Regions from separate parts of the Homo sapiens genome. Here region 1 is linked to region 2. The links come from fine-mapping of genetic effects on plasma protein levels. A gene starts in region 2. The other region holds a variant in brackets. All regions are shown on one strand. Distances are from middle to middle.

Region 1 (5,000 bases), 59 kb before region 2:
CTGGAACCTAGCACAAAGCAGGCATATAGTCAGAAGGAAAAAAAGGAAGGAAGGAGAAAGGAAATGAATAAATGAATGAATTGGATGAGGGCAGCTCCTAGGTCCTGCAGGAAGAATTCCTACACTGAAGAATATTTCAGGACCTTTGTGTCACCTCCTGGGTTGGAAGGGTTCTAGTGATGGCTGTAGACAAAGAACTGTGTCATCCATACAATGGGGGAAGATGGGGAAGAGTAGAAGGTGGAAGGTCCTGAATGGAAAAGAGAGATATGTGGGCAAGTAAACACCATGTTAAAGTTGAGAATTTACGTGATCACTGCTTATGATATAGGGATGCACTGAATCCCCAAGAAATTAAGGTCAGTCTTATTAATAATGATGTGTTGAAGGGAAGTCCTCCTTGTTCTTTTACCACAGGGGAAGAGAAGAAAACCTAAGGCTCCACAGGGCTGCTGGGAACCACCTGTGGTTTCTCTCTCTCTCTTTTTTCTCGTTGTTCACATAGCTCTTCTTATATAGCCTCGTATTATGGTTATGTGTAATTATTTCTACTATAGCTCCCCCCGAGGAACACTTCTTAGCCTTCTTTGTATTTAGAACTAATACTGAGCTGTGAGCATTGGTAGAACTAAACCAGTTATTAAAATTTAGAAACACTTATGTTTGAGCTACTACCCCGGGGACCATTCCAAATGCCTCTTTTTTTTTTTTTTTTTTTTTTTTTGAGATGGAGTCTCACCCTGTTACCCAGGCTGGAGTGCAGTGGCGCCATCTTGGCTCACTGCAACTTCCGCCTCTTAGGTTCACGCGATTCTCCTGCCTCAGCCTCCTGAGTAGCTGGGATTATAAGTGCCCGCCACCATACCCGGCTAATTTTTGTATTTTTAGTAGAGATAGGGTTTCACCATGTTGGCCAGGTTGGTCTTGAACTCCTGGCCTCAAGGGATCCACCCACCTAGGCCTCCCAAAGTTCTGGGATTACAGGCATGAGCCATCACACCCGGCCTTCCAAGTGCCTTTCTGATGCCTCAGCCACACCAGCACCTCCCTGGGACCTCCCTGTGATCTGCCAACTAAAGGGGTAGCACCTGGCAGAGGTGGGGTGTTCCTGCACTCTAGCCAGCATGATACGCTGTCCCGATGGTTAAGTATTTTGGTTGTCATCTCTGCTGTATCCTTCTCAGCTTCCATCAACCCTTTGTTGGCTGACTTCACCTGTCCTGAAATATTCAGCTGTAGTCTCCTCTCCCTACCACACCCACTTCCCTCTGAAAACTCACCAGGCTGGGCCGACAGCACCTGGCAGTGCGGATAAGGGCATGGCCTGCCCTCTGCGGTGTCAGAACTCCATTCAGAAGGCCCCTCCCCAGGTGGATGTGGTTCCAGGGGCTGGCGAGGAGTCAGGCACAACCACACTGGCTGTGAATTTGAGTAACAGGGGCCTGGGGTTTCTGGTAGCAGCCTCTTGTCCAGGCCTGGAGGTCCACAGATCAAGGGGTGTGCCTCTGGGGACCAAGGATATGCCACACTGGGGGTGTAATGGGGAAAAATCTGGCAAGCTGGGTGCACAGTTGCATCCTGGGGCCGAGAGCCAGGGGTGGGCTCGGAGGGACCCCCCCGCCTTTTCCTCTGTGGGTGTCGGGCAGAGAGGCTGGATTTTTGCAAGTTGAACAGACTGCTGGTACTGGGGCAGATGCTGGAGGCGTCAACTGGGCCAGGGGCTGGCTCAGGGAGGGCCCTGGGGCACTGTGGGTTAGAGAGCCGCCCCGAAGGGGCTGCTGAGTTGGATCTGGTGACTTGCTGATCAGGAGAAGGTGGCTCTGGCTGGGGCTGTGTCCGAGGAATAGGAGGCCTGGACTGGGGGACTCCGGTTTCTGGGCCAGGCTTCCTGCCATGCCACTGGAACCGCTTTTTGTAGTGGTGGTGCCGGTGGCGGTGGTAGTGGACATGGCTGGAAACCTGGGTTTCCCCTGTGGGCACCACCGAGTCCAAGGAACGAGGCCGAGAGGTCACACTAGGCTGCATGTCCACTCGCTGGGGATCCCCTTTAGGGCTGCAGTACACTAGGGGGTCAAAGTCACTGCTTAGGGAGCTGCAGAAAGTAGAACTGCTGCCATGGACCCCCTGTAGGCTGATGTCCGTGCAGTTGACCACAGAGTCACTGGAAGAGCCATGACAGGGCCCTGAGCTGGAGTCACTGGCTGGCCCATCTGCCAGGTACCCACTGCGTTCTGTGCAATAGCTTTCTCCAGATCCACTGCTGTCAGGGGGCCTGGCCCGGCGTAGGGGCACTGGGCAAGCAGCAGGGTGCTGTGAGGTGGATTGGAGGTGGCTCAGTCCCCAGCCTTGTGCATAGGGGTGCTGGGCTCCTGCCAGGCGCTGCTGCTCTCCTGGAGCCCGGGGATGTGCAGCTCTGGGGAAGCGGTGATGCCGAGGGCCCATGCCTGGCTCCTGGGATGGCAGGAAGGGACCAGGTCGTGGGGGCCGAGCCACTGCACTCCGGGAAGGGCCCAACAGGTAGGCAGCAGGGAGGTGGTAGTGGGCATGGCCGGGATGCTGG[C/T]GAATGAGGTGGAGTCTTCGACCTGGTTCTTGGTAAGATCGAGAGGGTCCCAGGGACTGGGAAAATGAATCTCCCTCTGGAAAAAAGAACCAAGAGCACAGATGTTTAACTCTACAAACCTACAGAGAATGCATTCAGAAAGACATGGCTGTAGCTAATCTATTTGACCCTGAGTAGCCTGTGAGCTCAGAGTTTGGGGGATCAAGGACGTGCCTAAGCTGCCTGTGCTCTGGGACTCCTTTGTTCCCTCCAGTCAGGTTGCCTGCCCTGGGAGGGCCACTATGCGTGTCAATCCCTAAACCTCCCCTCAGCCATTTGGAGCTCTTTCACCCAGGGCCACTGTTAGCCCATAGGGCACCTGTGGGTACCTTAGAAAAAGGTTCTCTTTCCTCAAGATATTTATTTCACTTTCATCTTTTAGAAAATTATGTTAACATACTGATTTTGTTAGAATAGAATATTTTATTGCCAGAAAATTGGAATAATAAACATATAAATCACCCAGATTTAGAATCAACAAACTTGCCATGAAATACAAATAATTTTTACAATAATAAAGATTATCTACGGCCGGGCGCGGTGGCTCATGCCTGTAATCCCAGCACTTGGGAGGACAAGGCGGGCGGGTCACAAGGTCAGGAGATCGAGACCATCCTGGCTAACATGGTGAAACCCTGTCTCTACTAAAAGTCCAAAAAAAAAAAAAATTAGCTGGGCATGGTGGCGGGCGCCTATAGTCCCAGCTACTCCGGAGGCTGAGGCAGGAGAATGGCGTGAACCTGGGAGGCGGAGCTTGCAGTGAGCCAAGATCGCGCCACTGCACTCCAGCCTGGGCGACAGAGCGAGACTCCAACTCAAAAAATAATAATAATAATAATAATAATAAAGATATCTACATGCCAGGCACGGTGGCTCACGCCTGTAATCCCAGCACTTTGGGAGGCCAAGGTAGGCAGATCACCTGAGGTCAGCAGTTTGAGACCAGCCTGACCAACATGGAGAAACCCCGTCTCTACTAAAAATACAAAATTAGCCAGGCATGGTGGCGCATGCCTGTAATCTCAGCTACTCGGGAGGCTGAGGCAGGAGAATCGCTTGAACCCAGGAGGAGGAGGTTGCGGTGAACCGAGATCACGCCATTGCACTCCAGCCTGGGCAATGAGAGTGAAACTCCGTCTCAAAAAATAAAAATTAAAATTAAAAAATAAATAAATAAAGATATTTACATTTTGAATGACGCTTCCCCTCGAGTGAGGCACTCTGGAGCAGTGTACAGCCCATACAACTATGGTGGCAGTTCTGCTTTCTCCCCAGCTTCAAGGCTGCAACCCTTTCCCAAAGGGAAGCCACATTCTAGACCTGTCTGCCTACACAGAGGGGAGTCCTTGGCCCACCTCCTACCTGTGATGTTGAACATGCAGAGGGGGCAAGTCCGATGCTGATGTAACCAGGGGTCCACACAGTTACGATGGAACTCATGGAGGCAGGAAATGACCCGTAGCTCCTGGAGAAAAAGAGGGGGTCCAAACCAAAGGCTTCTGTAGCCATAGGAATTGCCAGGAATCAGGACATCCCCCAACTCCCTTAGGCCTCTCCTTGCTATTATCTACTTGTAAAAGACCTCACAGTAGAATAGGAATGGTATGAGCTTTGGCATCACATAGACCTGGATTTTGCACTTAGCTGCATGACGTTGGGCAACTTTCTTAACAGACAGTTTTCTGCTGTAAAATGAAGATAAAAAAATGAATCTAACCCCACCCTTCATTGCCATGGGTCTAAAATGAGATAATGCATCCAAAGCACCACTGCAGCCTGGCACGTGGTACACTCTCAACAAACAATAGTGCTCTTTCACTGGAAGGTCAGAAAAGTGACCAAACTTCAGGCTGGTCCCTGATCTCTGCCTCATGCAGGACACATGGGAAACAGATGTAGCCAGGGTACCCATACCAGCCCCTAGGCCTGCCCACCCCTCCCCCAGCTTCAATCTCCCCAGTCTGGTCATGGAGGTGAACCACAAGACCTGCCTTACCTGCCCCTCAGAGAACTCCTCCAGACAGATGGCACACACAGGGGCTGAGCTGCAGCTGCTCCCTGAGTCTGGCCACTCACCCCGGGCCTGCCTGCAGCTGGCCTGGTACCTCCTGGTGGCCAGCTGGCTGATGGCCCAGGCTGTTCTCTGCTGAAGCGGATCCTGGGAAGAGGAATGGGGCTCAGATTGGGGCATGGGCTCCCCTTCCCTCCCTCTCTGGACCCAAGCTTGGACTCCGTTCCCAGTCACTCAGGTAGATCACATGGCCAGTTGAACATCCTTAGGAGTTCGTCTCCTCGGAGCTCATATGTGGCTCTGCCAAGCATGCCAAGCTCTCCCAGTCCACCCACCTGCTTATACCATTAGCTTTTCTTCCTTTGATGACCCATGAGAGAAACTTTTTAT
Region 2 (5,492 bases):
TAAATTTAGAATGCCAATAAGGCAGTATCTACTCTTTCTATGAAATAGAAAGCTAAGCAGTAGAAGCCCGTGTATGGTATTTCATTTGGGAGACAAAAGAAGAAAGACATATTTCAAACAGATGGAAAGTGAAATATAATAAAGTTATACTTGCCTGCATTAATTTTCCTTCTGCTGGAGTTATTTCAGCAACACCAGCAAACACACCTTCCAAAGTGAGATTCAGTTTTCCTGTGGGGTCCATTTTCAAGGGGATCACTCTGATAATAGCTTTCTGTTCTGCTGATCTTTCAGACTCCACCGCTGCTGCCAGTACCAGTCCTGTGCGTCCAAAGCCTGCCTGCAGGGTAGCCATCAGCAGCCAGGGCCAGAGGGCAGCCAGCTGCAGCTGGTGGCCACCACTCATGCTACCAGCTGCAGCAATGCACTTCAACCATACATACTGCTTCCACTAGCTAATACCAAATGCAGGTTCTCAGATCCAGACAAATGGAGGAAAAGAACATTTATGCTTCCGTTTCAGAAAGCCAAGTCGTAGTTTTGGCCCTTCCTTTCTCTAAAGTTTATTCCCAAAAACAGGTAGCATTCCTGATTGGGCAGAGAAGAGGATATTTTCAGCCCACATCTGCTGCAGGTATGTCATTTTCTCCCATCTTCACTGTGACTAGTAAAGATCTCACCACTTCTCTTTGGAATTTCCAACTTTGCTTGTGATTGAATGTCACTTCGTGAATTTGTATTATGTCAGATCACTTGGCATTGCTCTTCCATATGCATCAAGTTGCCAGGCACTAAACCCAATGTTCATGAACAAAACAAGGCAAAGTAAACAGCTAAGGCCATGCATCAAAGGTGAGCGTGAAGAACTCCAGCTCAGAAAAGGAAGGGATGGCCCTTTTTAAGCCATAATATGTGTTAATGGTAAATGACTAAATACCACAAGGAGATTTTTTTTTTAATGGAGGAGAAGAGGGAACAATAATAAAAATTTCAGGCCACACGTTGATGTCCAAAGATGCTACAATATGTATTTAGAAAAGTTTCCACATTAAACTGTATTTCAGTGTGGCCAGGTTTCTAGGCCCACTGCATTTACATACTTTTCATGAACTTAGACATACCATAATTTTTTGTGTTTTACCAAAATTTGCCTATAAATTAGGTGCTAATTTATGTATCTTCACACATTACAGGATAATCCTGAGCATCACAACCTTTTCCAACTTTCATAATTAGAGTATTTGAAAAGGTTAGCTTTCCAATTATTTTTCCCAGTTAAAATTCATATTTCCATCTCCATTTTCTTTTCTCTCTTAAGGATTCTTGATTTTATTCTCCAGCTCGGAAATGCCGAGCACTTTGATTTCCCATGAGATGCTTTTGGAAACTACTTTAATATCCAGATTTTATGATCTGTAATTTTCTAGGTTCATAAGAAAAACAAAGGACTATTCCTCACATGTATCCAAATTCCCTGAGGGGGTAGGGAATAAAAGGTAGGGGGAGCAGGGAGGCGATTAACCACAGGCTCTAGGTAGAATACCCTGAAAAAATACAAATAATCTTGAGTAGAATAGATCTGTGCTATTTCTAGGCACTATGAAAATTTGCGTCTTTGTACAAACACAGAATAAGATTTTTAAAATGTGCACCCTTAAGTAAATATAAATACACCTCACCCACAAAGCCCTCTGTGTTCCAAGGTCAAGTTTAAAAATATTATAAAGTCTTCAGAATAAGTGCTGAAAAGCCAAGCAATTGAACATGAACCTGTTATATGGATTCTTTTCTTTTGCTGAGGCAGAGGGAGGGGGGAAAAAGGAATTTCAAAAGAAATCTGCAAACCTGTTGCGCTGTCGGGCCCACTGGAATCCACGGGGGTGAAACAAATTCAATTATGCTTTTACAGATCCTGCTCAAAAAAGGTTTCAACTGCTTAACCAAGTACAGCTCATTCTTCCACCTTCTTACTCTGCAACCAAACCAAGTGCCCCATACTACAGGTAGGTGCCGAGAAATTCCGCAGCCTGAAAAAATAATCCATGCAGGTCAAAGGCAGAAATTTACTCCGGGATGAGAGATGCTGTCCCCTAGAACTAAATTAAACACTTACAGAAAATCCAAAATCATTTCTGAAACCTCCTTGCTAACAAAAGTTCTTTTTTTCTCCAAACAGCATATAAAATGATCAAGTCTTGAAAGAGAAAAGAAGCAAAGTAGCAAATACATCAACAATTCACTATCAGAAACACATAAAATCCCAGAGAGAGAGAAGGCAGTATCTCTGAATCATGGATGGACTTGGAAAGTTCGGAAGGATTCCGAGTGCTTCCTTTCAGAAAGACAATTCTGGATCAACTCCCTAGAGCAGGAAGCCTGTGGTTTGTAATTGGTGTTCTAGCTCTGACTCCCTCCCCTGGGACTGCAATCACGCTCTCTACCTGCTGACAAAGTGAGGGTGGAGCTGCTAGAGGCAACCACTCCCCACCCTGCCCCCCTCCTCCTGGTGCTCACACACAACACTTACTTAACCAGACCCGTTCTTTCGCTCTCCCCCCTCCCTCAGCTCCTCTACTCCCTCTACTGAGCCACAGCTAAACTGCATCCAATTCGATCCCGAGTACCTTTCTCTGGGTAAGCAAGCTACCACATGCAAATCAGGGCCACTCAAAGATATCTAAGCAGACTCTGCACCCAACAGAGCATAGATGATGGTATGAGGAAATAAACAGAAAAAAATAAAGGTAATCCGGAAGATAAAAGAATGGACACAAGGTTTTGCAAATATAAGTTCAAAAGGATTTCTGCTCATTCCAAGTTTGAGTGTCTATAAATGGCAGAAAGCCAGAATAAAGTGATCCTGTGTTTTAGTACTTACTGATTTATTGCTGCTTATGTCTGCTACCCTGGGAAGGGCTCTGTCCATTTTATGCTTAGCTTTTCTTCAGCTCTTACTAATTTAAATTCAGTAGCTCTGTCTAAACTGTGCCTATATGGAACTTTCAAATCAGGTTGATGTCAGATGTCTGGAATCCAACTGTTATTTTCTTTTCAATCTTTGGGAGGTGAAATAATACTATGGATCAGACCTATGCCTTCAATGTAAGACTCCAAATAAGTCCATGTCATAAATACAAGCCAAAGGGTAAAATATGATTAATGAGAAGAACATAGGCAAAAAGAAAATGAATTTCTGGCTAATTACCACATTCATGAACTATAATCCTTATTACTACCCTGCCATTAGAAATAATACAACAGTTTCTAATACATTTATAACATTTGAAGTTTCAAATTACCAGATTATATTTGACTGTGGTGAGACATTTTATTTCTGAACCGCTGCCATAAACTTTCAAAATTATACAAATGAACAACAATGTGGATATAGTTAAATCTAGTGAACTGTACACTTAAAAATGGTTATGATAGTAAATTTTATGTGTTTCTTACCTCATGTAAAAACGAATCTCTGATCATCTGTAAAATGCTGATGATAATAATTACGATAGGTCTGTTGTAAAGATTAAATGACATAATGCCTCTGAAAGCAAAAAGGATGAGTAGCCTATTGACCTTCAACATTGTTTCCCCTGTAGATAAGGTTTATGACAGTAGTTTCAGAATTTCAGATCTAATAACTAACCTAGATCAAAGACAAATTCGAAAATAAATTTTTTGTTTATTTTTGTTGTTTGAGACAGGGTCTTGTGTTACCCACGCTGGAGCACAGTTGTGCCATCATGGCTCACTGCAGCCTTGACCTTCATGGCCTCCCACCTCAGCCTCCAGAGTAGCTGGGATCACAGGTGCGTCCCACCACACCCTGCAAATTTTTTTTTTTTTTTTTTTGAGACGGAGTCCCGCTCTGTTGCCCAGGCTGGAGTGCAGTGGCGCTATCTCGGCTCACTGCAAGCTCCGCCTCCCGGTTCATGCCATTCTCCTGCCTCAGCCTCCCGAGTAGCTGGGATTACAGGCGCCCGCCACCACGCCCAGCTAATTTTTTGTATTTTTAGTAGAGACGGGGTTTCACCGTGTTAGCCAGGATGGTCTCCATCTCCTGACCTTGTGATCCACCCGCCTCGGTCTCCCAAAGTGCTGGGATTACAGGCGTGAGCCACTGCGCCTGGCCAACACCCTGCAAATTTAAAAAAAATTTTTGTTGGGCCAGGCGTGGTGACTCACGCCTATAATCCCAGCACTTTGGTTGACCAAGGTGGGTGGATCACGAGGTCGGGAATTTGAGACCAGCCTGACCAACATAGTTTAATTTAACATAGTTAAACTAAAAAATAACCTACAAATGGGCTTTGCCTCATCTATTCCTGCTTAAAACGTGCAAAGGAATGAAAAGACCTAGCCCTAGTAATTAATACACACACTTAATTGACAGAAAGAAGACAGTTACAAATGTGGTTGCCCTCTCTTGAGGAAACTCTGAGATTTGGAAATGATGATGATATGCATCATGAACCTGGAGACTTGGAGAAACTCAAGATCAAACCAAACAGCTCTATGTAGCTTAGTTCACTGTTTTAGATCACCAGAATTGCAAGAGCAATTATTCTTCAGCTTCAAAGTTTTGGAGTTACCCTCTAGGGTTGATATACTACTACATTTTCCTAGAGATGTCATAAAGATGCCATCACTATTGTAATGAAATGCCTAAGTCTCAATGACATCTACTAGCTAGTCTTATACATGAGATAGATCATCCTTCAGGATCTACTTTCACCTCTGGATTGATTAAATTTATCAAAGATCATTCATCCTTTTCCAAAAATGTAGGTTTCTGTAAAACATGTCTAAGAATTGTCCTTATCCCTAACGGCATTTAAAAAATTCCATTGCTATTCAAGTACAAATGAAAAAAAACTTTTAAAATTCAGATTATTTGAAAAATAAAGTAAATCTCATTTGAATTATACTATTAACTGTCATAATTATTGAATTTTCTATTAATCACCAAACAGTAAGAACAAGCAAGACAACAAGTCTAGTTGGAACACTCACTTTATTGTTGACTGATTGAAATTTATCAGTGCTTAAGGTGCTGAAATACTGAGGTACTAGTCAGGAACCTTGTTAGTTGACTAGTTGTGTCAGACCCTACTGGCTAATTCACAGGAAGACTTTATTATACCTCTTGCCATTTTGCCCAAGTCATTAATGACAGCTTTAGTTGATAGATACAAGGCGTGTAAGGATAGCAGGAGATCCAGCTCCTTGGTCTGCTGTATTCATATATAAAAATGTTTGGAAAGCTGATTAAGGCATTTCATTAATTAAGCCTTAAAACAACTGAAACCAAATCTATGCCAAGGTTCCTGCTTGACATGTGTTCCTCAAAAGATATTATCTCAACATCTATAAAGCTAAGAAAGCCATATTTAGGGGAAAATCTACACAGTATATTAGCTCTTCAACATGACAGAGAAAAAGCAAAGTTCCTTCATTTGGAAATTGGGTCTCCTCTTCACATACTCTGACAA

Alleles and levels. Positions count from the first base shown, and alleles are read on the strand shown. Strength reflects both the effect of a copy and how common the allele is.
For the plasma level of the protein whose gene starts at base 2,363 in region 2, C is the low allele of the variant in region 1 and T is the other (moderate association).

What was found. PIP is the chance, under the fine-mapping model, that this variant and not a neighbour inherited with it causes the effect. Protein levels are from antibody-based Olink assays in UK Biobank. Linkage for the fine-mapping came from a reference panel and not from the study's own genotypes, which makes the PIPs less certain.
Region 1: its variant is fine-mapped to the plasma level of the RNF43 protein (UK Biobank, PIP above 0.99). The variant lies in the coding sequence of RNF43. If it changes the protein, the assay may bind it differently, which can mimic a change of level.

The regions. Positions count from the first base shown.
Region 1 is chr17:58,356,188-58,361,187 of GRCh38, forward strand. It overlaps RNF43 (ring finger protein 43), which reads right to left. Exons shown (of 10, transcript NM_017763.6): 7 at 4,596-4,757; 8 at 3,962-4,064; 9 at 1,281-2,636. Among named protein-coding and RNA genes, the nearest start is that of SUPT4H1, 6.5 kb to the left of the region's middle. The variant C/T (reference allele first, on the strand shown) is at 2,561.
Region 2 is chr17:58,415,172-58,420,663 of GRCh38, forward strand. RNF43 (ring finger protein 43) reads right to left here and starts at 2,363. Exons shown (of 10, transcript NM_017763.6): 1 at 1,846-2,363; 2 at 155-791. The coding sequence starts at 406. HSF5 (heat shock transcription factor 5) reads right to left here. Exons shown (of 6, transcript NM_001080439.3): 6 at 4,996-5,492.